Linked DNA regions of Homo sapiens. The protein of the gene in region 1 purifies or fractionates together with the protein of each later gene. This does not show direct contact. Each region holds a gene or a part of one and is shown in the gene's direction. Other genes may lie near its edges.

Region 1 (7,930 bases):
AGAGCCGGGTGTGGTGGCACGTGCCTGTAGATCTCAAAAAAAAAAAAAATAAAAATAAAAAAAAAAAAAATTGAGCCAGGTATGGTGGCACGTGCCTGTAGTCCCAGCTACTTGGGTGGCTGAAGCAGGAGAATGGCTTGTGAACCTGGGAGGCAGAGGTTACAGTGAGATGGCACCATTCAACAGAGTGAGACTGTATCCCCTCACCCCCCAAAAAAGAAAGAAAAGTGATTTAGTAAATACAGCCAACAATTCTGTTTCATTTGCATTTAAGTATCTTTTAAAGTTGCCTTTCAGATGAAATAGCCTATACAAGCAAGCATATAAAAATGTACTTAGAACTAGGCTTTAAAATCATTGTATCACAGAGAATTAAACCAGCATGTTCAAAAGTAATCAAGCATATTCTGTTACATTGCTCTCAGTACAAAATATGACATTCTACTGATAGAATGAAAAATAATTTTTACATGATTTTAATCTTATCCTTTCAGGACTCTTTTTCTATAAATACATTTGTAATTTATTAATACAGTATCACATATAACCCAGGAAAATTATAAAACTGGTATGTAACTTATAAATATTTACATATATATATCGAGTGGTTCATCAGATTTTTTTAAATGGCGATATGTAATTTTATTGTAAAGTTCAATAATGATCATACCTGGAAAAAATCTCACAAAGATACGTAGACCCAAATGGAGGTAAATTGATCTAGACCAGTGTCTCTCAAAACTTTAAATCACCAGCATGCTTTTTTGATGATTCCATCTAAGATCTATTGAAAAAAATCCTTAGGTGTGGGAATAGGGCTATGGAGTCTGCATTTTGAGCAGATATAACAGCAAACATTTTATGGTGTTTATTGTGTTTTAAGTGCTGTTTTAAGCACTTTACATTGACTCATTCTTCACAGCAGCCCTATGAGGTATAGGTACAGGTGACTAAGAAATTTGCCCAAGGTCACCTAGTTAGAGTGTAGGGTTAGCATTGTATGTAGAAAACATACCAGAGAATTCTTTTGCATACTTTTGGGAACCATTACTCTAAGTCTAATCTAAGTCATTTGAAATTGGGAAAGCTTTATTCTATAAAATAGTAAAGTTGGGTAGGCGGGGAGAGGGTGATGCATAGTAGTACTTTCCAATTCTAAGGATTTTAAGTCTTTGTCAGTCAACACTGGGTAGCTACTTCATGGATTTTAAGTTCAGCAAAGTGAAGTCCATTTTTTAGCACCATGTTAAAGGTATGTTTTTAACAGAATCAAAGTAATGATAAGGTTTTCAGTTTTATAGATATATAGTAAAAGTGATAAAACCAAATGTGTGTAGAATGGAGATTTTTATGTTTTAATTGAATTTTGGGGTTGTCTTTAGGTTCACTGGGAGGAGAAATCTTGATTTCAATACTTGCTTTTGAAAGTCTTCTAAAGTATATTAGTATACCTTCCTACCTTGATTTATTGAACAAGATGACTCACTGTTTTGAATATTCTCATTGTCCAGTCTTCTGTAAACTTACATGTCGAACCCTAGACTCACCTTGTAAATTAAATCAGAATGAAATTATTAATGAAGTTTTATTTCTTGTTTTTTCCTTTCTCCTAGAACAGTGGTCTCAACGTGGCTGCACATACAAGTCACCAGAGAGGCTTTTAAAAGATGATATCTGTGTCCCATCCCTAGGGATTCTGATTTAATTGGTCTGATTATTCTTACGCGCTAGGGCTGAGAAACCACTGTTCTGTAGGATGTAGGGGAGGAAATTTCTTGGGCTTTTGTTGTTGCTCCCGTAAATTAGGATAATACTAAAAAAAATACTTGAGGTAGGAGTTACTAGACTATAGAGGGAATATTGTACATACATTTTCTGTCAAATTTAAACATTTAACACCTGCATTTTTTATTTCAGATTTATTGCTAAACATGGGTGCATTTTTGGATAAACCCAAAACTGAAAAACATAATGCTCATGGTGCTGGGAATGGTTTACGTTATGGCCTGAGCAGCATGCAAGGATGGAGAGTGGAAATGGAAGATGCACACACAGCTGTTGTAGGTATTCCTCACGGCTTGGAAGACTGGTCATTTTTTGCAGTTTATGATGGTCATGCTGGATCCCGAGTGGCAAATTACTGCTCAACACATTTATTAGAACACATCACTACTAACGAAGACTTTAGGGCAGCTGGAAAATCAGGATCTGCTCTTGAGCTTTCAGTGGAAAATGTTAAGAATGGTATCAGAACTGGATTTTTGAAAATTGATGAATACATGCGTAACTTTTCAGACCTCAGAAACGGGATGGACAGGAGTGGTTCAACTGCAGTGGGAGTTATGATTTCACCTAAGCATATCTACTTTATCAACTGTGGTGATTCACGTGCTGTTCTGTATAGGAATGGACAAGTCTGCTTTTCTACCCAGGATCACAAACCTTGCAATCCAAGGGAAAAGGAGCGAATCCAAAATGCAGGAGGCAGCGTGATGATACAACGTGTTAATGGTTCATTAGCAGTATCTCGTGCTCTGGGGGACTATGATTACAAGTGTGTTGATGGCAAGGGCCCAACAGAACAACTTGTTTCTCCAGAGCCTGAGGTTTATGAAATTTTAAGAGCAGAAGAGGATGAATTTATCATCTTGGCTTGTGATGGGATCTGGGATGTTATGAGTAATGAGGAGCTCTGTGAATATGTTAAATCTAGGCTTGAGGTATCTGATGACCTGGAAAATGTGTGCAATTGGGTAGTGGACACTTGTTTACACAAGGTATGTAAACTTTTTTGTCATTAAAATAACATGTTAATTTTGAAAAGTTACGGTAGGTAAAGTTAAGCTAACTTAAAATTTTAAAACTTTTAATATTTTCACAGAAGCTGTATATTTTGAAGTACTTTACCAGAAATGAAACCATTGTTTTCTTTGCCATCCTTGTTTGTCCCAGCCTTCTAATTTGAAAATTAAGCTTGATAAATTTGAGGCATTTGTTGTCATTTAAGTACTTCATAGCTTGTTGCTGTAGCAAAAGCATTTACACAGAGTGACTTTTTCTTGACATTGGCAGTAACCATCTTATGCCTGATTATGAAGCAGCTTGATAAAATATGTATATAGTAGAATTCTGTACTAGATATTACTAAAAGATCAAGAGCCATGTGAAATATTGGAAGATGTACTAGATGCCTAGCCTGTATAAAATTTAGTCCTGAGCCTCCTAGCAGTGAAGACAAAAACTGAAATAAAAATATGGGTTGTATATTTCTCATTGTCTTCTAAAAGCAGCTCTTATCTGGCAATACAATCTAAAAAGGATTTACATGTGGCTCTCTAAGTAATACATGACTTGGATAGTATCTTTTGTAGAAGATAAAATTCTTTTCATATAGATGTTTTTATTATTTCTGATTAAAAACCAAAGGCTTCTATAAAACATAATCTTGTGAAAAATTCCTGTGGAACACTAAAGTTTATTTAGATTTGTAATTTTGTATGAATCATTGCTTGATACAGTAATAGAAAAAAAGTCCAGAGTAATAGATAATTGGCAATCCTTTGAATATCTTTAAAATACTCAGTTGTTTCAAGTGGGTTTTTGACAGCATCTATATATAATTCAATTAAAATTTGAGTTATCTGGCCAGTGTCTGGAGTGTGTAAGTATTTGACTGAAAAGATACCAAGGTAAAACTGACCTTTAGTTACATGAAATAAATAAAGGGTTTGACTTATTTATTCTGTCTAGATTAGAACCACTGTATCTCCCTACTCCAAAATGTACTGTGGAAGGTATGGGCATAACCAGAAAGTTTTTCAGAAAGGATCTCTGGGTCTCTGGAAATGCCCAGATTTTGGTTAAATACCGATTTCTTTTTAATAGAATGGAAAGAGGCAGTTTTAAAAACAGAAGATTTAAAGGCCGTTCTTGTCAGTGGACAGCCTTTTTCTGAAAGGATTTTAATGATGGTACCTCTAGCTCCTCTGATTTTTATTTTTAACACACTGTATCTTTTTACTTCTGGATGAGTTAAGTAAAGAAGTATTGATGGTTGTCAGTGATCAAATAGTAAGTGGGTCTAAAATTATGTATTTGTCTTTGAACTCTAAATGAAGCAATTCTGACCTGTAGATTTTTGAGACAAGCATAGGCATATGTTTGTTGCCTGACTAGCTAATGAAAACAGCATTTTCCCCAATTATAAAAAAAAGGTATATACTTACTATTGGAAAAAAAATCCAGATGATGAAGAAAATATAGAGAAACACCCAAAATTTTGCCATCCACCCTAAGTCAGCTACTTTCATTGTTGTGGTGTATATTGTTCCAGTCTTTTCTGCCTGCCTGTGAGTGTGTGTATTTTTATAAAACCGAGATGATTATACTTGTTATTCTACAGCCTGCCTTTTCCAACAATATATTGTAGAGAGATCTCCATGCCTATAAGTATTGATCTGTATCATTTTTCTTGGCTGCGTAGTATTTTATTGAAAGAATGAGGTTGTGAGGGAATAGCCAAAAAATCTATTAGGTCTGTAATTTGGACTAAGGAAAGAAGTTTGTGTTAGTAGATTAACTCACTTATCCATTGAAAGGATGCTAGTTTTTGAGAATTTTGACTCGACCCTTCTGAATGAGGTTTAAATATTTCTGGTGGTATATCTTCACTTGCTAGCTTTTATCAATTTAGAGTGATTAAATGTTCATGTTGATGGTGTTAAAAGATTCTAGATGGCATCCTAGAATCTCAGAAATGAGGAATGATAATAACAGACAAGAAGTTGGGGCCCATGATTCATTCAATGTTAATGGAAGCTGACCATCATAGTTCCTTCTAATGGAGCTGCATTCAAATTGAAATCAGTTTGGAGGTTTGAATTGAAACAAAACAGACTTAAAATTATTTTTGAACCTTTGAAAGTTACTTATGGAAACCTTCATTTCTGTTTAACTTCGTAATTTTGTCTTTCCATTTATTTGTATTGTAAAAGCAAGGGTTAGCAATAAGATCAAATATAATTACTTTGAATTTACTCAGAAAAATTGTAAGTTAAAAATTCATGGAAAGCACTTAGCGATTGCACAGTAGTTACCTGCTGTAAGAGGAGAGGAAACATTAATAAGTAGATGTTTCCCTGATAAGAGATTTAAATGAAGTCCTAGTTTTTTCTAACACCTCCATCACTTGTCATACTTTCATAATTTATAAGCACTTTTATCTTAACTCATTAAATCTTGGGAGGTTATCATAATCATAATCGTGGTAGTATTAGTAAATTATTGCTTTCTGTAAGCCAAACACTATTCTAAATACTTTACATATTTTAACTCATGTAATTTTCACAACCATATGAGGTAGTTAAGATGACGAGGTCAGGAGATCGAGACCATCCTGGCTAACGCAGTGAAACCCCGTCTCTATTAAAAAATAGAAAAAATCGGCCGGGCGTTGTGGTGGGCGCTTGTAGTCCCAGCTACTCAGGAGGCTGAGGCAGGAGAATGACTTGAACCCGGGAGGCAGAGCTTGCAGTGAGCCGAGATCACGCCACTGCACTCCAGTCTGGGTGACAGAGCGAGACTCCGTCTCAAAAAAAAAAAAAAAAAAAAAAAAAAGATAAGCATTTTTCAGGGTTGCCAGTTAATATTAATCTGTAAGTGTTGTATGACTGTGGTCAGGTATTATCCTATTTAAATTAGGTATTTAACTCGAGGGGAGAATGGGAGCTAAGAAAGCAACCCTCCCATTTTATTTGCAATGCTGGCATTTATGGTGTTTACTGCCAACTAATTTCGGGTTGCTTAAAATATGTAACTGCCACGTGCATAGCTTTTCATAACTTGTAAATGATACATACTTATTAATCCTCATAGTAACTTTCTGAGGTGAACAAAATAAAAAGTTTTTTTAATTTGCAAGTAAGGAAATGGAGGTTGTTTGATATTAAAAGATATCCATAAGTCATATACTTGGTGAGTATTGAGGCTGAGACTAGTTTTCTGACTCAAGTTTAGTATTTTTGTTAACAATATTTCCCAGAAGGGCCTGATAAAATAAAGAAGAGTGGGTGTGGGTGTGGGTGTGGGTGTGTGTGTGTGTGTGTGTGTGTGTAAGTGTCTGTCTGTTTCGGTTTTCATGGTCTGAGAAATTTTTCCCCAAGGGAAACATTAAGACTAAATTTTTTTTGTAACAAATACAGAGATGTTTGAAGTAAAGTGATTCCCCTTGATGTTTCTGCTTTCCAGTCTCATCTCACTTAGGGAACCACTGCTCATGGTTTGCTGTATATCTTTCCAAATGGTTCTCTGTGATTATTGATAGAAATGTATAAACGTAAAATAGGATTTTTTCTTTTTTTGTATTTTATAGAAAAAGATCATGCTATGTTTGTTACTTTGTCACCTGTTTTGTTTTTCTTAAATTATAAAAGTCGGTATTCTTTTAAATTGTTCTTTTAAAACATTATTTGATTTTCCAAAATTTCATTTATATACCATCTACCAGAAGCCTATTTATTTTAAAACATGAGATAGTACCTCATAGTTGGATAAAATTGAGGGAAATTATCATTTTCCAAAGGCAACATCATTCTATATTAATTTATATAACATAGAAAATGTAACCCCCTCAATAATTGTTTAGTTCTAAACTCAGGAGAATTGCTTGAACCTGGGATGCAGAGGTTGCAGTGAGCTGAGATCGCGCCATTGCACTCCAGCCTGGGCGACAGAGTGAGACTCCGTGTCAAAAAAACAAAAACAAACAAAAAACTGTATCAGATTGTTTTCTGTTTAAGTTTAGATGCCCTTATTTATGGCAGGGGCACTGGCGTCTTTGATCTGGTACTATGATTATTAAGAGTGTTAACTGCTGTGCTGTTGTAAAAAGTAAAAAGAACATGTAATAATCAATTTTTATATGCAGAGCTAATTTCTTTAGTTATCCAAACTGGATTTAGAAAAAAAAATGTTTTATTTATGGACTTAGTGAAAACTTTATACTGATTATACAAGGATGTTTTGTCTCTAAAAAACAATGGCACAAAGGAAAGGACCTTTTCTGTTGCTGTATAACAGCTACTGAAACATATTCATACTTGGTGTTTAGGGGAAAGCCATCTTTACATAGAAATAGAAGCAAGCCAGGCAAGGTGGCTAAGAAGCAACATCACTGAAATCACACATGCCTGAGATGTAAATATAAATTATTTCCCTTAAATGTCTTTGGAGAACCATAAATTTATTGGAACTCTCTTTCAATTAATTTTCCAAAAGTATTTATATTTTATAACTTACAAAAATCGAATGGAAATTAGATAAGGAAATGTTCCACAATGCTCATGTTGTTGTTACCAAAAACTCAAAAGGGTTAAAAGAAATTAGATTTCTAAAAGTGTAAGGTGTTAATTCCGTTTATGCATAAAATTGCTTTATAAAGTGTAATTATGCTTGATTCTTTTTTTGTTGTTGTGTTTTAGAAAGGGTGTCTCACTGTGTTGCCCGGGCTAGTCTCAAACTCCTGGCCTTAAATGATCCTCCTGCCTCAGCCTCCCAAACTGCGGGGATTACAGGCAGCCACCATGCCCAGCTGTTTGATTCTTGAATATCCATGGTGTACTTTAAAATTATTTTTAATTAAAAATTTTTGCTTGAACTGCCCTTATGACATTTATACAAGTATATTCATATAACCAAACACATACAGTATTTCTAATATAAAAGTTTTGGTGGGTTTCATTAAGGAATGAATTAATTTGGCCAATTTGGAAATGGTTTTTCCAGATAACCGGGAATCTAATGAAATACTCAAGTTGGTTCCTTGTTCCAAAGCACAACAATCTGTGACAAGTTAATTTATTTTGAAGTCTTCTGAAGACCCAACCTTCACTGCCTTCAAACTTTACTCCCATTGAATTAGGAGGTGAAGGCA
Region 2 (7,188 bases), on another chromosome or scaffold:
CTTGTTGCTCAGGCTGGAGTGCAGTGGCGCGATCTTGGCTCACTGCAACCTCTGCCTCCCGGGTTCAAGCGATTCTCCTGCCTCAGCCTCCTGAGTAGCTGGGATTATAGGTGCCCGCCACCACGCCCAGCTAATTTTTGTATATTTAGTAGAGACGGGGTTTCACCATGTTGACCAGGTTGGTCTTGAACTTCTGACCTCAGGTGATCCACCCACCTCGGCCTCCCAAAGTGCTGGGATTACAGCCGTGAACCGCCATGCCCGGCCTCAGGCCTAAGTCTTGATGGTGGCCAACAAGGTCTTCTCTTTTAGGCTTTCCTTTGACCCACCATCCACTCCCCTCCCTCCGTCCTGCTGCCAGCCCCTCACGTGTCTCAGGGCCTTTGCCCAGGTCACCCCTGCCTGGACTGCCCTTCTCCCAGTGCCACTCAGTGCACTCACTCCCGTCTCTGAAGTCTTGCTCAAATACCTCCCTTGGTTGTTGACCTCTGCTACCCCAAAACTTGACTGGCCCCCACTCCCCTAGAGCTCGTTCTCCGGACCTTTTGCTCCTCTTTTTGGCCCAGCTTCCAGGTGCTCTATGCCTTGGGAAAGGTCAGCCCTTTCCCTCCCCTGTTCTGCCTCCATCACCGACTTCAAGTGTGTGCGTGGGGACTTTGTAATCCCTCTCCTTCTGCTTGCAAAGCTCCACTAACCTTATATCTCATACACTGTATTAATGTATCCTACATTAAAGAAAATTGCTCCCATGGCTGGGTGCAGTGGCTCATGCCTGTAATCTCAGAGCTTTGAGAGGCCGAGGCAGGCGGATCACCTGAGGTAGGAGGTCGGGAGTTCGAGACCAGCCTGACCAACATGGAGAAACCCTGTCTCTACTAAAAAATACAAAAATTAGCCAGGTGTGGTGGTGGGCATCTGTAGTCCCAGCTACTCGGGAGGCTGAGGCAGGAGAATCGCTTGAACCTGGAAGGCAGAGGTTGCGGTGAGCCGAGATCGCACCACTGCACTCCAGCCTGGGCGACAGAGCGAAACTCCGTCTCAAAAAAAAAAAAAAAAAAAAAGTATAAAAAAGTATCTCAGAGAAGGACGTGGTGGAAGCCAGTGGAAAAGCTGCTGCCAGTAGATGAAGCTGGCCCGATGTGAGCCACGAAACAGAACATGACACCAGGGTGTGAGCCAAAGTGTAAAATAAACACCTGAGGTCCACACGGACCCAGCCTGAGGCTAGTTAAATGAAGGTTTTGCAGTTTTCTCGTCATGTTTTGGAACTAATCTTTGTTTCTGGTCTTGTGTCAGTTCCTACAGCTGCCACAAATTATCACAAACTTGTAGCTTGAAGCCAGAGTTCAAAATCAGTTTAATAGGGTCGAGGTATCAGCCGGGCTGTGCTCCCTCCGAGGGCTCTAGGGGAGAAACCTTCCTTGCCTCTTCTAGCTTCTTTGTCTTCTTTTTTTGTTGTTGTTGAGACAGAGTCTTGCTCTGATGTCCAGGCCAGAGTACTATGGCGCGATCAGATCACTGAAGCCTTGAACTCCTGGGCTCAAGCAGTCCTCCTGCCTCAGCCTCCTAAGTAGCTGGGACTACAGGCATGCATCGCTATGCCTGGCTAATGTTTTCTTTTTAGAGATGGGTCTTGCTGTCTTGCTCAGGCTGGCCTTGAACTCCTGGCCTCAAGCAGTCCTCCCACTCTGAACTCCCAAAGCACTGGGATTGCAGGCATGAGCCACTGGGCCTGGCCTCTTCTGGTGGGATACCCTACCTTGTTTCCACCTGAGTGACCCTCTCCTGGCAGAGAGAGAGCCGGACACACTCCATTTTAGTTTCTTCACCTGCGGCCCCCTTTCACCTTCCTCCCTGAAGGCATAGCTAGTGTAAACTGACTCAAAGCACGTCCAGGAATGCACCTACTGATAAGACATTGAGGCAAGCTGCACCAGCAGCTCCTGGGGACACGCGTGGTGGATGGCACCCAAAACCCCTGCATTTATCTCTTTGTGATAGTTTAAGCCTCTGCACCTGGAACTGTTTATTTTTTGTAACTGCATTTGTAACCAATTAATTTTTTTAACTTTTTGCCAGTTCTGCTTCCGTAAAAATTGCTTCAGCTAAAATCCCCCCTCCCCTATTTAGACCACGGTATAAAAACAAAACTAGCCCCTTCCTCGGGGCCGAGAGAATTTTGAGCGTTAGCTGCCTCTCAGTCGCGGCTAATAACGGACTCTTTAATTTGTCTCAAAGTGTGGCGTTTCTGTATAACTCGCTTGGTCACAACACTGGCTTCTGATAGCAGCCTGTAATCCTTGGCTTGTGGGCTGCATCGCTCCAGTTCCTCCCTCCATGCCATGCTGCCTTCTTTTCTGTCTCAAAGCTTCCTCTGCCTCACTTTTAAAAGGCCCTTGAGATGGCACTGAGGGCCTCCCTGGGCAATCCAGGATAATCACCCCATCTCAAGGGAATATCTGCAAACACTCCTTTCTTTTCTTTCCTTTTTTTGGGGGGAAGGGGAGACAGGATCTCACTCTGTTGCCCAGGCTGGAATGCAGTGCCCAGCATCTTCCATAGACAATAGCATTCACAGGTCCCAGGGATTAGGGCCTGATATCTGGGGCCTGCTACAGCCAGCATCTCAGAGTTCACATGACAAAGAAGAGGCCCCCCAGTCCTCTCCAAATCTGCCCCACCCCAGTCATCTTGGGGATGAATCTCCCCTTTCCACTCTTCCCAAATGCCAGGGCCATCCTTGATTGTTCTTTGTCTCCTCCTCCCTCCACCTCCAGTCCGAGCCCATGGTCCACCCCTCTCCTCTGCAGCCCCCGTCCTCTCTCCTCACAGCACAGAATACGGACTTCACACACATAAGTCAGACGTGCCACTTCCCATCCACCCCTGCTTAAACCTCCAACAGCCACCACCCCCCATTCATTCATTCACAATGTTTATTCAGTGTCTGTATGTGCCAGCCATTGTGTAAGCGCTGAAGAGACGGATACACTGGCAGGTAAAACAGACAGAAATCCCTGCCCTCATGGACCTCCTGGGGTGATGGACAATAAGCAGGGTAAATAAGTGTATTGGTGGTCACTTACTGCAGAGTGACAGGTTACCCCAAATGCAGCTGCTTAACCAGCAGGCATGCATTATCTCCCAGTGTCAGCCAGGCAGGACTCTGGGCCTTTGACACAAAGTTTCAGGAGGCTGTGGTCAAGCTGCCGGCCGATGATGTGGTCTCATGGGAAGGCTCAGCTGGGGCGTCAGCTTCCCGGTTCCCTTGCTGGCCATGGTCATCCCCTTAGGGCTGCCTCATGTCACACCCAGCAATTCAAGAGCAATTTTGTCCTATTCTAGTTGCCAGAAGCAAGTCATTAATAAAGTCCAGCCCAAGGGGAGGGGAGTGCAGAAAAGTCTAAACCCAGGAGGGTATAACAGGGAGCTAGCTGCCAGAATAAAGCAAGCCAAAGTGTACTTTCTACAGTGAGAAGTGTGAAAAATAGGGAAATGACAGGAGAGAGGGATGTGAGAGCTGGGCAGCATGCTGCAATGTCAGAACAACACCAGGGAAGGTCTCACTAAAGTGACTTTTGAGTAAAGACCTGAAGGAAGCATGTGAGTCTGGGGAAAGGATGTGCCAGGCAGAAACAGCAGCATGTGCAGAGGCCCAGGGGGCAGGAGCCAGGACTGGGAGTGAACTGGGAAGCAGGAGGAGGTGAGGCAGGCTTGCTGTGGGAGCACTCCGATATGGAAGCGTAGCTTACAGACCCACTGGCCCTCCCCACAGCACCATGCTGCCAACCTGGCCTTCTTGCCGAGCCTTGAACAGAACCATTATTTATGTGGCCAGGCCTCCGCCTGGGATCTCCCTGTCCCTGGTGGGAGCCATCCTCTTCCTCCTGCCCTCATAGCACCCGCTGCAGTTTCTCCTGGCGCTTGGCCCTGCCTGAGAGTGTGGTGTCTCTCCTATTGGATCCTAGAAGCTCCAGGGAGTCAGAGACCTTGTCTGTTGATCGATATCCAGGCCTAGGACAACAGGCACGTAGGAGGAGCTGGAGGAATACCATGCGCGGGACAGAGAGCGCAGAAGCCTTCTTCCCTGGAGATCGCTCTGTACTGTGACTTCTTTTTTTGTTTGTTTGAGACAGAGTCTCGCTCTGTTGCCCAGGCTGGAATGCAGTGGCGCGATCTCGGCTCACTGCAACCTCCACCTCCCTGGTTCAAGCAATTCCCCTGCCTCACAGGCGTGCGCCACCACACCTGGCTAATTTTTTTGTATTTTTAGTAGAGACGGGGTTTCACCATGTTGGCCAGACTGGTCTCGAACTCCTGACCTCAGGCAATCTGCCCGCCTCGGCCTCCCAAAGTGCTGGGATTACAGGCGTGAGTCACCTTGCCGGACCAACCGTAACTTCTTACGATTAGAGTTAGGAAGCTTCCGGTTTGTGTGTGAAGACGATGGAAGGGCGGGGCTCCAGGATGTATCCGCAGAGCCACGGAGGGAACCTGGACTCGGCTGGACTTGGAGCCGGGGCGGGGGCGGGAGGGGGCGAGGTTCGAGTGGGGCTGCTCGCGGGCGCGAGGGCCAGAGCCCGGGATCGCGCCGTGGAGCCCACGACCGGCGAGGCCAGCGCTGGGGGCAGGGCCTCTGGATCCCTGACCCAGGACGCCCTGCTCCGGCCCGCCCCGCGCACTAAACTCGGCCTCTAGTCGCCTGAAGCCCGCGCGGGTACCGGGTCCGCGCGGCCCGGCCTGTGCCTTTAGCCCCGCCCCGAATCCCCCCACCCTCATAACCCCGCCCCTAACCCCGCCTCCACACACAGACCCCGCCCCCAACCAGACTCCGCCCCGCGCAAGCTCCCTAAGCCCGCGACTGGCCTGCACCCGGCTCCGGAAGTCGTTCTTCCGCGCAGGAGCCCTGAGCCCGCACAGCCCCGCCCCTCCCGGCGCCCAAGCCCCGCCCCGCCGGGTTCCCGCTCGCCCGGCGCCATGGATCCGCTGTCGCCGCCGCTCTGCACGCTGCCGCCGGGCCCCGAGCCGCCCCGCTTCGTGTGCTACTGCGAAGGGGAGGAAAGCGGGGAGGGGGACCGCGGCGGCTTCAACCTCTAGTGAGTGGGGGTCCGCGGGGAGGTAGGGGTGCAGGGAGCTCCGCGGGCGGCCCCGCCTGACAGGCCTTCTCCCCCAGCGTGACCGACGCCGCGGAGCTTTGGAGCACCTGCTTCACGCCGGACAGCCTGGCGGCCCTCGTGGGTAACTGGGCGGGTCTGGGAGCCGCCACACCCCTCCTTGCAGTGCAGATCGTCTATGGGGCGACAGACATCTGGGATTCCCCAGAAGGCTCTGACACCCTCTGCCCGCCCTGTAGCTGTAGTCCTCCCATTGGCTAGGGCTCTGGGGTCGGGCAGGTTTCGGGTGCCCCCAGTGGGCCTCGGGTTCCAGGCAGCTCGTGACAAGCCCCTGTGCTCTCTAGAAAGCCCGTTTTGGCCTGAGTGCGGCTGAGGACATCACCCCCCGGTTCAGGTGAGACCCAAGCAGGGAGGAAGGACGGGTGGGGAGGAGGAGGGTCTGCCACAGCTCTCCGCACCTCTCCTCTCCCAGGGCAGCCTGTGAGCAGCAAGCTGTGGCTCTGACTCTGCAGGAGGACAGAGCATCCCTGACGCTTTCAGGGGGGCCCTCGGCACTGGCCTTTGACCTCTCCAAGGTACCAGGCCCAGAGGCAGCCCCCAGGCTGCGGGCGCTGACACTGGGCCTGGCAAAACGCGTGTGGAGCCTGGAGCGGCGACTGGCAGGTAGGATTGGGGGTGGGCACCTCATACCTTCACTGGGGTCCCCTGCTCTTGCCCCCACTCCTGGCACTGAGTGGGGTTCCCATGGGCTTTCCTCCCCAGCTGCAGAAGAGACAGCTGTCAGCCCGAGGAAGAGCCCCCGGCCTGCAGGGCCTCAGCTCTTCTTACCAGGTAAGGCATGTCCGCCTGTGACTCAAGTAGGGCTGTGCTCTTTAACCTGGAACTCAGTTTCCCCCCAAACAAGACTCACGCTCCAGAGAGAATGCCTATCTATTCGGAGAAGGTTGTGGTTGGGATGCTGCCAGGTTCAGGAGCTGCCCCTGTCCTGTTTTCCCCCAGACCCAGATCCCCAGAGAGGTGGCCCTGGACCTGGAGTCAGGAGGCGGTGTCCAGGAGAGTCGCTCATCAACCCCGGGTTCAAGAGGTACCCTCCCACAGCCCCCTTCCTGCGCCCAGGGTCCAATCCTGGACCCCACCCCTTTCTCCACACCATAGTGCCATAGTGACACCCCTCTTCCCTCCCAGTAAGAAACCAGCTGGTGGCGTGGACTTCGATGAGACCTGAAGGTGCAGCACAAGCGTGGCCCCGCGGGGAGTCCGCCTATGAGGGGAGAGGCAGTCTTTGAGGCCCCCATCAGAGACCCCCCGCCACCACCTCCACCTGCCTGTCCTGGGCCAGGACTAACACGGCTCCTCAAATTCCTTCCCTGTCAAATAAACAGCTCCCTTGGTTGGAGGCTCTGGTGGGGCTCTGACTCCTGGCACTGGCCTGGGAAGGGATCAGGGAACACCCCTGGGCCTGTGTTCTGGGTGTAGGGCCACAGGATGTGAACAGATGCTGCAGCCTCTCAGCTCCCTGGAGACTTCCTTGCTGGGCCGGAGGGAGGTGAGCACTCTCAGACCGTCCAGCTATTCCAGCCCTGCCAGCCCAGGAGCTGAGAGGGGCCCAGCCAGGCAGGGCCAGGGCTCCCCAAGGCTTAGAACTTTGTTCCCACCCTCCCAGGCCGCACCCAGGTAGGGCACGGAGCCCCGTGGGAGGATGCAGACAGAAGTCCCGTGTAGACCCTGAGACACTGGAAGTGCCCTGCGGGGAGGGGAGCGCCTGCCCCGGGACAGGATTGAGGAATGTGCCAGCCCCCATCCACCTGGGGCACCCCGCCCCACCCCGGCCTGACTGGTTTGGGAGCCCAGTCCGGTCCTGGAGATCCCTGAGGCCACCGGTTGCAGGAGGCCTGGAGTCTGCGCCTTCTTAGCGTGGAGGATGGGACCGGCCCGACCCCCGGCGCTCCTGCCCCTGTGGTTCTGGGCTATCGGGCTGAGCGTCCCACCCTGGGGTTTGGGGATGGGAAGTGATCCCGAGACCTCTGGCCCTTCAGATGTCAGGACACCCTCACTCCCGACAAAGATGCCTTTA
Region 3 (8,261 bases), 7.6 Mb from region 1:
CAGTCCTGGGTCGGGGCAAATCCTCGAGCTTGATGTGTAGGGAAGAGAGGGGGCCTGAATAATCCCTGAGGAGTAGTAGAATAGCAGATGGAACACTGAGAAGTTATTTCCTTGAGGATAGATTTCCATGATGGAAAGGAAATGAGAGGTTCTGAGAGGCGGGGTAGTGGTTTGTACTATAGCATAGCCTGCCTTTGCTGGTGTGTGGCGATTAGGCCTGGTGGAACTGCCATCAATAAATCAAGTGTGATCGGGGTGAGGAACAGGAAAGAAGGAAATACGGGGAAATGGGGTGAATATCAGGTGGATCAGAGAGATACAGTCATGGGGGTCAGGTGTGGTATCAGGAATAATGTGGGAGGCCGGATTGAAGTCCGGGCCAGGAACAATGGTAATTGTGGGACTTAACAAAGAGTGAGTACAGCTGAAGGAGCCGGGGAGCAGAAAGTATATGCGTCAGGTGTGAGAAGAAAATAGATTTTGGAAGTTATGAGAAATGTAGAGAATGAGTTGAGCATAGTTTGTGATTTTTAGGGCCTCTAACAGTATTAAAGCAGCGGCAGCCACTGCATGCAGACATGAGGGCTAGGCTAAAACAGTAAGGTCAAGTTGTTTGGACAGAAAGGCTACCCGGTGTGGTCCTGGCTCTTGTGTAAGAATTCTGACCGCACTAACCATGCCTAGGAAGGAAAGGAGTTGTTCTTTAGTAAGGGATTGAGGTTTGGGAGATTAATCGGACACGATCAGCAGGGAGAGCACGTGTGTTTTTACGAGAATTATGCCGAGATAGGTAACAGATGAGGATGAAATTTGGGCTTGACTGAAGTAATGGGGGCTGTCTGTGAAGCCTTGCGGCAGTACAGCCCAGTCAATTTGCTGAGCCTAATGGGTGTCAGGGTCAGTCTAAGTGAAGGCAAAGAGAGGCTGGGATGAAGCGTGCAAAGGAATAGTAAAGAAAGCATGTTTGAGATCCAGAACAGAATAATGGGTAGTAGAGGGAGGTATTGAGGATAGGAGAGTATATGGGTTTGGCACCACGGGGTGGATAGGCAAAACAATTTGGTTGATAAGGTGCAGATTCTGAACTAACCTGTAAGCCTTGTCTCGTTTTAGGAGAGGTAAAATGGGGGAATGGTAAGGAGAGTTTATAGGTTTTAGAAGCCCATGCTGTAGCAGGCGAGTGGTAACAGGCTTTAATCCTTTTAAAGCATGCTGTGGGATGGGATATTGGCGTTGAGTGGGGTAAAGGTGATTAGATTTTAATGGGATGGTAATGGGCATGAGATCGGTTGCCAGGGAAGGAGTAGAGATGTCCCATACTTGTGGGTTAAGGTGGGGGGATATGAGAGGAAGACACGAAGGAGGCTTTGGGTTGGGGAGAAGGGCGGCAATGAGATGTGGCTGTAGTCCAGGAATAGTCAGGGAAGCAGATAATTTGGTTAAAATATCTCGGCCTAATAAGGGAACTGGGCAGGTGGGGATAACTAACAAAGAGTGCATAAAAGAGTGTTGTCCAAGTTGGCACGAGAGTTGGGGAGTTTTAAGAGGTTTAGAAGCCTGGCCGTCAATACCCACAACAGTTATGGAAGCAAGGGAAACAGGCCCTTGAAAAGAAGGTAATGTGGAGCAGGTAGCCTCCGTATTGATTAAGAAGGGACGGACTTAACCTCCACTGTGAGAGTTACCCGAAGCTTGGCATCCGTGATGGTCTAGGGGGCTTCCGAGGCGATTGGGCAGTGTCAGTCTTCAGCCGCTAAGCTGAGAAGATCTGGGAAGGAGTCAGAGAGCCTTGGGCCAGAGTTCCAGGGGCTCTGGAAGTGGCTACCAGGTGAGTTGAACAGTCCGATTTTTCAGTGGGGTCCCGCACAGATGGGACACGGCTTAGGAGGAATCCTGGGCTGTGGGCATTCCTTGGCCTGGTGGCCAGATTTCTGGCACTTGTAGTAAGCTCCTGGGGGAGGAGGTTCTGGAGGAACCCCTGGCCGCTGCGGTTCGGGCGTTTGGAAGTTCTTGTGTGCTGGAGATGTGGCTGGGGTTTGTCTCACAGTGGAGGCAAGGAATTGCAACTTTATTCTATTATCGTACACCTTGAAGGTGAGGTTAATTAAGTCCTGTTGTGGGGTTTGAGTGCCAGATTCTAATTTTTGGAGTTTTATTTAATGTTGGGAGCAGATTGGGTAATAAAATGTATATTGAGAATAAGACGGCCTTTTGACCTTTTAGGGTCTAGGGCTGTAAAGCGTCTCAGAGTTGCTGCCAAACGAGCCATGAACTGGGCTGGATTTTTATATTTGATGAAAAAGAGCCTAAATGCTATCTGATTTGGGATAAAGAAAAAGGAGCATTAACCTTGACTATGCCTTTAGCTCTAGCCATCTTTTTAAGAGTAAATTGCTGGGCAGGTGGGGAAGAGCTAGTCGCGGAACTAAACTGTAAGCCAGACCAGGTGTGAGGAGGGGAGGTGATAGAAGGATTATAGGGTGGAGGAGTTGGGGCTGAGGAAGAATTGGGACTTAGCTCGGCCTGGCGACGAGCAGCCTGGGGAGGAGGGGAAAGGTCAGATGGGTCTGTAGAAAAGGAAGACTGGAAAAACTCAGCGACGCTTGGGGTTGGGACTGAGGGGATAGGCAGGAGGGAAAGGAGGATCTGGGAGGAATCGCATTGGGAACAGAGGCTAGGGAGGGAGTGAAGTGTGAAAAATGCCTGGACGTAAGGCACCTCAGACCATTTGCCCATTTTTCTACAAAAATTATTTAGGTCTTGTAGGATGGAGAAATCGAAAGTGCCCTTTTCTGGCCATTTAGAGCCATTGTCAAGTTTGTATTGGGGCCAAGTGGTGTTGCAGAAGAAAATAATGCATTTAGGTTTTAGGTCAGGTGTGAGTTGAAGAGGTTTTAAGTTCTTGAGGACAGGCTAAGCGAGAAGGAGGAGGAATGGAGGATGGAAGGTTGCCCATAGTGAAGGAGGTAAACCCAGAGAAAAGAGAGCGTAGAGACATGGAGGGAAGGGGTTCGGGGTTGTTACCCTCCAGAAAAGCGGGAAGGGGGGTTGGGGCACGGAAATAAGGGATTGGGGCACAGAGATAAGAGATTGGGGTGTGGAAATAAGGGATTGGGGGTTCTTGCCACCTAGAAAAGCGGGACTTGCCGCTAAGGGTGAAGGAGAAGGGGTTGAGGGGTTCTTGCCCCTGCCCCAGAAAAATCACAGAAGGGGTAGAGACAAGGAGAGAAGGGGTTGGGGTACTCGCCCCTTCCTCAGAAAAGCGGGACTTGCCGCTAAGGGTGAAGGACCAAGGCAGGCGTCCCTGCGTGGTCTGACACCTTTGAAACGTGGGTGAATAATCAGAGGCGTCCCTGCAATGATTAAACACCAAGGGAAGGCTGCCTTCCCAGCCCGTGACCGGCGCCGGAGTTTTGGGTCCACGGATAAAACGTGTCTCCCTTGTCTCTACCAGAAAATGAAAGGAACTGAAATTAAGAGAAGGGAGAGATTGAAGTGCGGCGCCAAGATTGAAAGGAGAAAGAGGTTGAGGGATAGTGAGGGAAGCTGGAGAAGACAGTAAAAAGAGGCCGCTTACTGGATTTGAAATTGGTGAGATGTTTTTTGGGCTGGTCGGTCTGAGGACCTGAGGTCGTAGGTGGATCTTTCTCATGGAGCAAAGAGCAGGAGGACAGGGGGATTGATCTCCCAAGGGAGGTCCCCCGATCCGAGTCACGGCACCAAATTTCATGTGCGTCCGTGTGAAGAGACCACCAAACAGGCTTTGTGTGAGCAACACGGCTGTTTATTTCACCTGGATGCAGGCGGGCTGAGTCCGAAAAGAGAGTCAGCGAAGGGAGATGGATTATCATTAGTTCTTACAGGTTTTGGGTCAGGCGGTGAAGTTAAGAGCAATGTTTTGCGGGCAGGGGTGGATCTCACAAAGTACATTCTCAAGGGTGGGGAGAATTACAAAGAAACTTCTTAAGGGTGGGGGAGATTACAAAGTACATTGATCAGTTAGGGTGGGGCAGGAACAAATCACAATGGTGGAATGTCATCCTTAAGGCTATTTTTACTTCTTTTGTGGATCTTCAGTTACTTCAGGCCATCTGGGTGTATATGTGCAAGTCACGGGATGCGATGGCTTGGCTTGGGCTCAGAGGCCTGACAGCTAGATTTTGTATTTTTAGTAGAGACGGGGTTTTACCATGTTGGCCAGGTTGGTCTTGAACTCCTGACCTCAAGCGATCCGTCCACCTGGGCCTGCCAAAGTGCTGGGATTATAGATGTGAGCCACCTCGCCTGGCCTACTCCAATTTTTTTGTATTGTAGTAAAATAAACATAAAATTACTATCTTAACCATCTGTAAGTGTATAGATCAGTGGCATTCAGCACATTAACACTGTCGTGGAACCATCACCACCATCCATCTCCATAACTCTTTTCATCTTGCAAAACTGAACCGCCCAATCACACTTAGTTTTTATGAGGTCTAAACAATTTCTTGTTACTCTTATCACTCCGACATTGTAAGCCCTGTGTATGGGGCACCCATGTATTAGTTATAACATACACATAGGGTATCTACTATTAGGCATTGCTCTAAGTGCTTTGCAAATGTTAACTGGCATAATTATCTTTGTATGTTCTGCAGGATCTAGCCAGTGCTTTGCACGTGAGAGGTAAAATATTTGAGGAATGAACTTCGGTACCACCTAAACATTTCCCATTGACTCTGGCTGTTATTCTGGTTGGCAAGTTAGGAAAGGAGCAGGTTACCTTGGGGAAAACGACTTTCGGGGCGTAATCTGATATTAGGTCGTAAGTTTAAAGAAGTCCTTTATTTTAGCCACATTTAGGCCAAGTTGCTAATAAGGGAAGCTAACAGGGAAGTTATTCCTAAATGATAGAGAATATAGGAAGTGACTCAAGGCAGTTAAGGTCTTGGCTTTCTAGTAGCACCGCGTTCAACTCCAGGAAGACTCAGGCCACCGGAGACCCAGGGTTGGGACAGCCTGGGATCTGTCAGCACGGTAGCGGGCGGGGGCGGGGCTTCGGGCCGGGGCGGGGCCGGGCTGGGCGGGCTGGGCCGGCCTGGGCGGGGCGCGCGACTGCTCCGGGCGGCGATGGCGGCGGACGGGGACTGGCAGGATTTCTATGAGTTCCAGGAGCCGGCCCGGAGCCTCCTGGACCAGGAGAACTGTAACGCGAGCCCCGAGCCTGGGGCGGAGGCGGGGGCCGAGGCGGGTGGGGGCGCCGACGGTTTCCCGGCCCCGGCCTGCAGCTTGGAGGAGAAGCTGAGCCTGTGCTTCCGCCCCTCGGATCCGGGCGCCGAGCCCCCGAGGACGGCCGTGCGGCCCATCACGGAGCGCAGCCTCCTGCAGGGGGACGAGTGAGTGCGGGGCCCCGGCCGGGAGTGGGCGGGAGCCTCCCCTACCCCTCGCCCGACCGGCAGCCCTACGGCCGCAGCTCCTCCCTGCGCCCTCCTTCCGCCCGGACGCGGGAGTCCCCGCCCTCTCGCCTCCTTCCTCCGGCCGTCGGCCTCGGCTCGCCCAGCAATTTAAATCCCCTGCCCCCCGCCGCCACGAGCCCTGAAAACCTCCGCCTCGGTACCTCCCGCCCTCCTTCCTGCAAACCAAACCCTCGTTTGTATTAGAAGGGAATCGCCCATGCAGAGCCCATAGTTAGAGACGGCACCTCCTGGGGCACCTCCTGGGGCACGTGTGTCGCCATTCATTCACTCAAGTCGCATTTATTAAGCACCTGCTGAGTGCCAGGCGCTGCTTCGCACAGGGAACACCAAAACGACTGGGCACTGTCCCTCCCACTTAGGACACAACGTAGGATGGGAGATAGATTTGTAAACAAATACATGTATGGATGTAATTAGCGCTGCAATGGTTATATGTACCAAATGTGAGAGACTTAAAAGCGTGTGTCTTGGGGAGAGTAAGGAACGACTTTATAAAGAAATGTGCAAACGAGATCTGACTGATGAGTGGGAGTGTGCCTGGCAGGTGGAAAAAAGTCTAACGTTCTAGGTGGAGTATATTGCCTGTGCATAAGTACCAACGTGCGAGGCAGCATTTAGGGCACAGGAATCTGTGGGACCCACCCGGGAGCCCTGGTAGAGTGCGAGCCGCCACAGAGACGAAAACGAAGGGCCCTGCTTACTGATGGTAACGATCGCATGGTCTGGTGGGGAGACCAAGGCATACACAAGTAATATTAATAATTACAGAATCACCTAAGAGCAATGATAGGAGGTTCACGGGGTTTTATCACAGCTGGGAGAGGTGAGGCGCAGAGTTCCTGAGGGCACTTTTTAAACCACCTGAGCCGCAATTATAATTTGGTTAAGTAAGAGTTGTAATTAGGTACCATGGTTTTACCCCCAAAAGATGGTAAATAGGAATGGTGAGAGTAAAGGGACTTGAGCATGTTGTGTATATAGGGGGAGAGGAGCCTCCGGAGAGGCTGAAGGTAAAATGAGTGGAATAAGATTGGGCGCGGTGGCTCACACCTGTGATCCCAGCACTTTGAGAGGCTGTGGTGGGAGGATGGCTTGCTTCCAGCAGTTCGAGACCAGACTGGGCAATATCGTGAAATCTGGTCTTTACAAAAAAATTAAAAAAAAATTAGTGAAGTCCGGTGGCGCATGCCCGTGGTCCCACGGACCCAGCTGCCCGGAGGCTGAGATGGCAGGATTGCTTGAGTCCTGGAGGCGAAGGTTGCAGTGAGCCATCATCGCACAACTGCACTCCAGCCTGGGTGTCAGAGCGAGACTTTGTCTCAAAAATGAGGACATGGGAAGGAATGGATTTTCAGAGCATTGATGGGATGGAGAGACTCTTAGAGGTTAGGGAAGAATTTTTGAGAGACAGGACAGGAGTCACGGGCACGGAAAGGAGTTTCCAGCCTGATTGTCTCCTTTCCTTTGTGAAACAAACAGATTTATCAGGAATAAGGTAGGAAGCTTGTAAAGACAGCCTTGGGAGTGGGGCCTGTAAACATGGCTGAGCAGTGGTGCAGGCCCACCTGTGTTTGGAGACCATCTCCTTTTATTGGTTCCTCAGTACAGTGTTCTGCCCAGGTGTAGAGAAGGGAAACACTTATAATTGGATTTTATACACACATGCATGCCGTCAGTAGCAAAAGATGACATTTTTGGAAGCCTGTTCCCAAAGAGAAGATAATTTTATGTATATGTAGATTTAGATACTCTGAATCACTAAACCCAGGACACATTCTGGATTTAAAAATTAGTGTAGATGTATTATGTATTTGGGTTTTTCAAGAGTAGCTGACTTAAATCAATTAGAGGATTGTACGTAGATCGTTAAGAGTTTTTGTTTCACTTAGACCGTCAGGAGAGTAGGTTATTTTAGCCTTTGCTTAAAAATATTTTGTCGCTCTTGTTAATGGTATTTAGTAGATGATATGTTGGTGGTAATGCATGTCTCTTGACTTGGGAATGCATATGAAATCTCTTTTTTTCCGGGAGTTGGGAGCTGGTCATCACTGGCATTGTCCCTTTTATATTGCAAAAACATACTCATCATTGCTTGATAGTCTGTTCCAGTTCCCTTTTCACTAGATATAATTGATAATTGTTTTACTCAGATATTGCTGTGCTTTAGGTCAAGGGGTCCCCAACCCCTGGTCCACAGACCGGTACTGGAACTGGGCCACACTACAGGAGGTGAGTGGCTGAGTGAGTGAGCAAAGCCTCATCTGTATTTACAGCTCCTCCCCATTGCTTGCATTACCACCTGAGCCACCTCCTGTCAGATCAGCCACGGCATTAGATTCTCATAGGAGCGTGAACCCTATTGTGAACTGCACAAGTGAGGGTTCTAGTTTGCAGACACCTTATGAGAATCTAATGCTTGATGATCTGTCACTGTTTCCCCTCTCCCCCAGATAGGACCATCTAGTTGCAGGAAAACAAGCTCAGGGCTCCCATTGATTCTACGTTATGGTGAGTTGTAAAATTATTTCATGATATATGACAGTGTAATAATAGAAATAAAGTACACCGTAAATGTAATGTGCTTGAATCACCCCAAAGCCCTCCCCGACCCTTGGCACTTCATTTAACTTCTCTGAGCCTCAGCTTTTGTTTTGGTTAAATATGGATTGTATTTACGTACTGAGGTTTTACTTATAAGAGTATTCTGCAGGATTCGATGTTGGCAGGACTTTGACCTCCTTGCAAAAGAGCTGTCCTGACCGTTGTTTACGACTGGTTGTAATACTTGGTGATAAAGATGAAGGC

Evidence for each region.
Region 2: the proteins of PPM1B (region 1) and PAXX purify together in Homo sapiens (co-immunoprecipitation; 3 studies listed by BioGRID and IntAct, with this or other methods). This does not show direct contact.
Region 3: the proteins of PPM1B (region 1) and FEZ2 purify together in Homo sapiens (affinity purification with mass spectrometry; 2 studies listed by BioGRID and IntAct, with this or other methods). This does not show direct contact.

The regions. Positions count from the first base shown.
Region 1 is NC_000002.12:44,199,269-44,207,198, forward strand, and holds part of PPM1B (protein phosphatase 1B), read left to right. Parts: intron 1-1,917; 5' UTR 1,918-1,931; coding exon 1,932-2,777; intron 2,778-7,930.
Region 2 is NC_000009.12:136,987,467-136,994,654, forward strand, and holds PAXX (protein PAXX), read left to right. Parts: upstream 1-4,955; 5' UTR 4,956-4,977; coding exon 4,978-5,096; intron 5,097-5,173; coding exon 5,174-5,234; exon of another isoform or gene 5,235-5,238; intron 5,239-5,458; coding exon 5,459-5,508; intron 5,509-5,586; coding exon 5,587-5,777; intron 5,778-5,876; coding exon 5,877-5,945; intron 5,946-6,113; coding exon 6,114-6,198; intron 6,199-6,299; coding exon 6,300-6,339; coding exon of another isoform or gene 6,340-6,400; 3' UTR 6,401-6,510; downstream 6,511-7,188. UniProt on the Homo sapiens protein: Non-essential DNA repair protein involved in DNA non-homologous end joining (NHEJ); participates in double-strand break (DSB) repair and V(D)J recombination.
Region 3 is NC_000002.12:36,594,991-36,603,251, reverse strand, and holds the start of FEZ2 (fasciculation and elongation protein zeta-2), read left to right. Parts: upstream 1-5,083; 5' UTR 5,084-5,109; coding exon 5,110-5,375; intron 5,376-8,261. UniProt on the Homo sapiens protein: Involved in axonal outgrowth and fasciculation.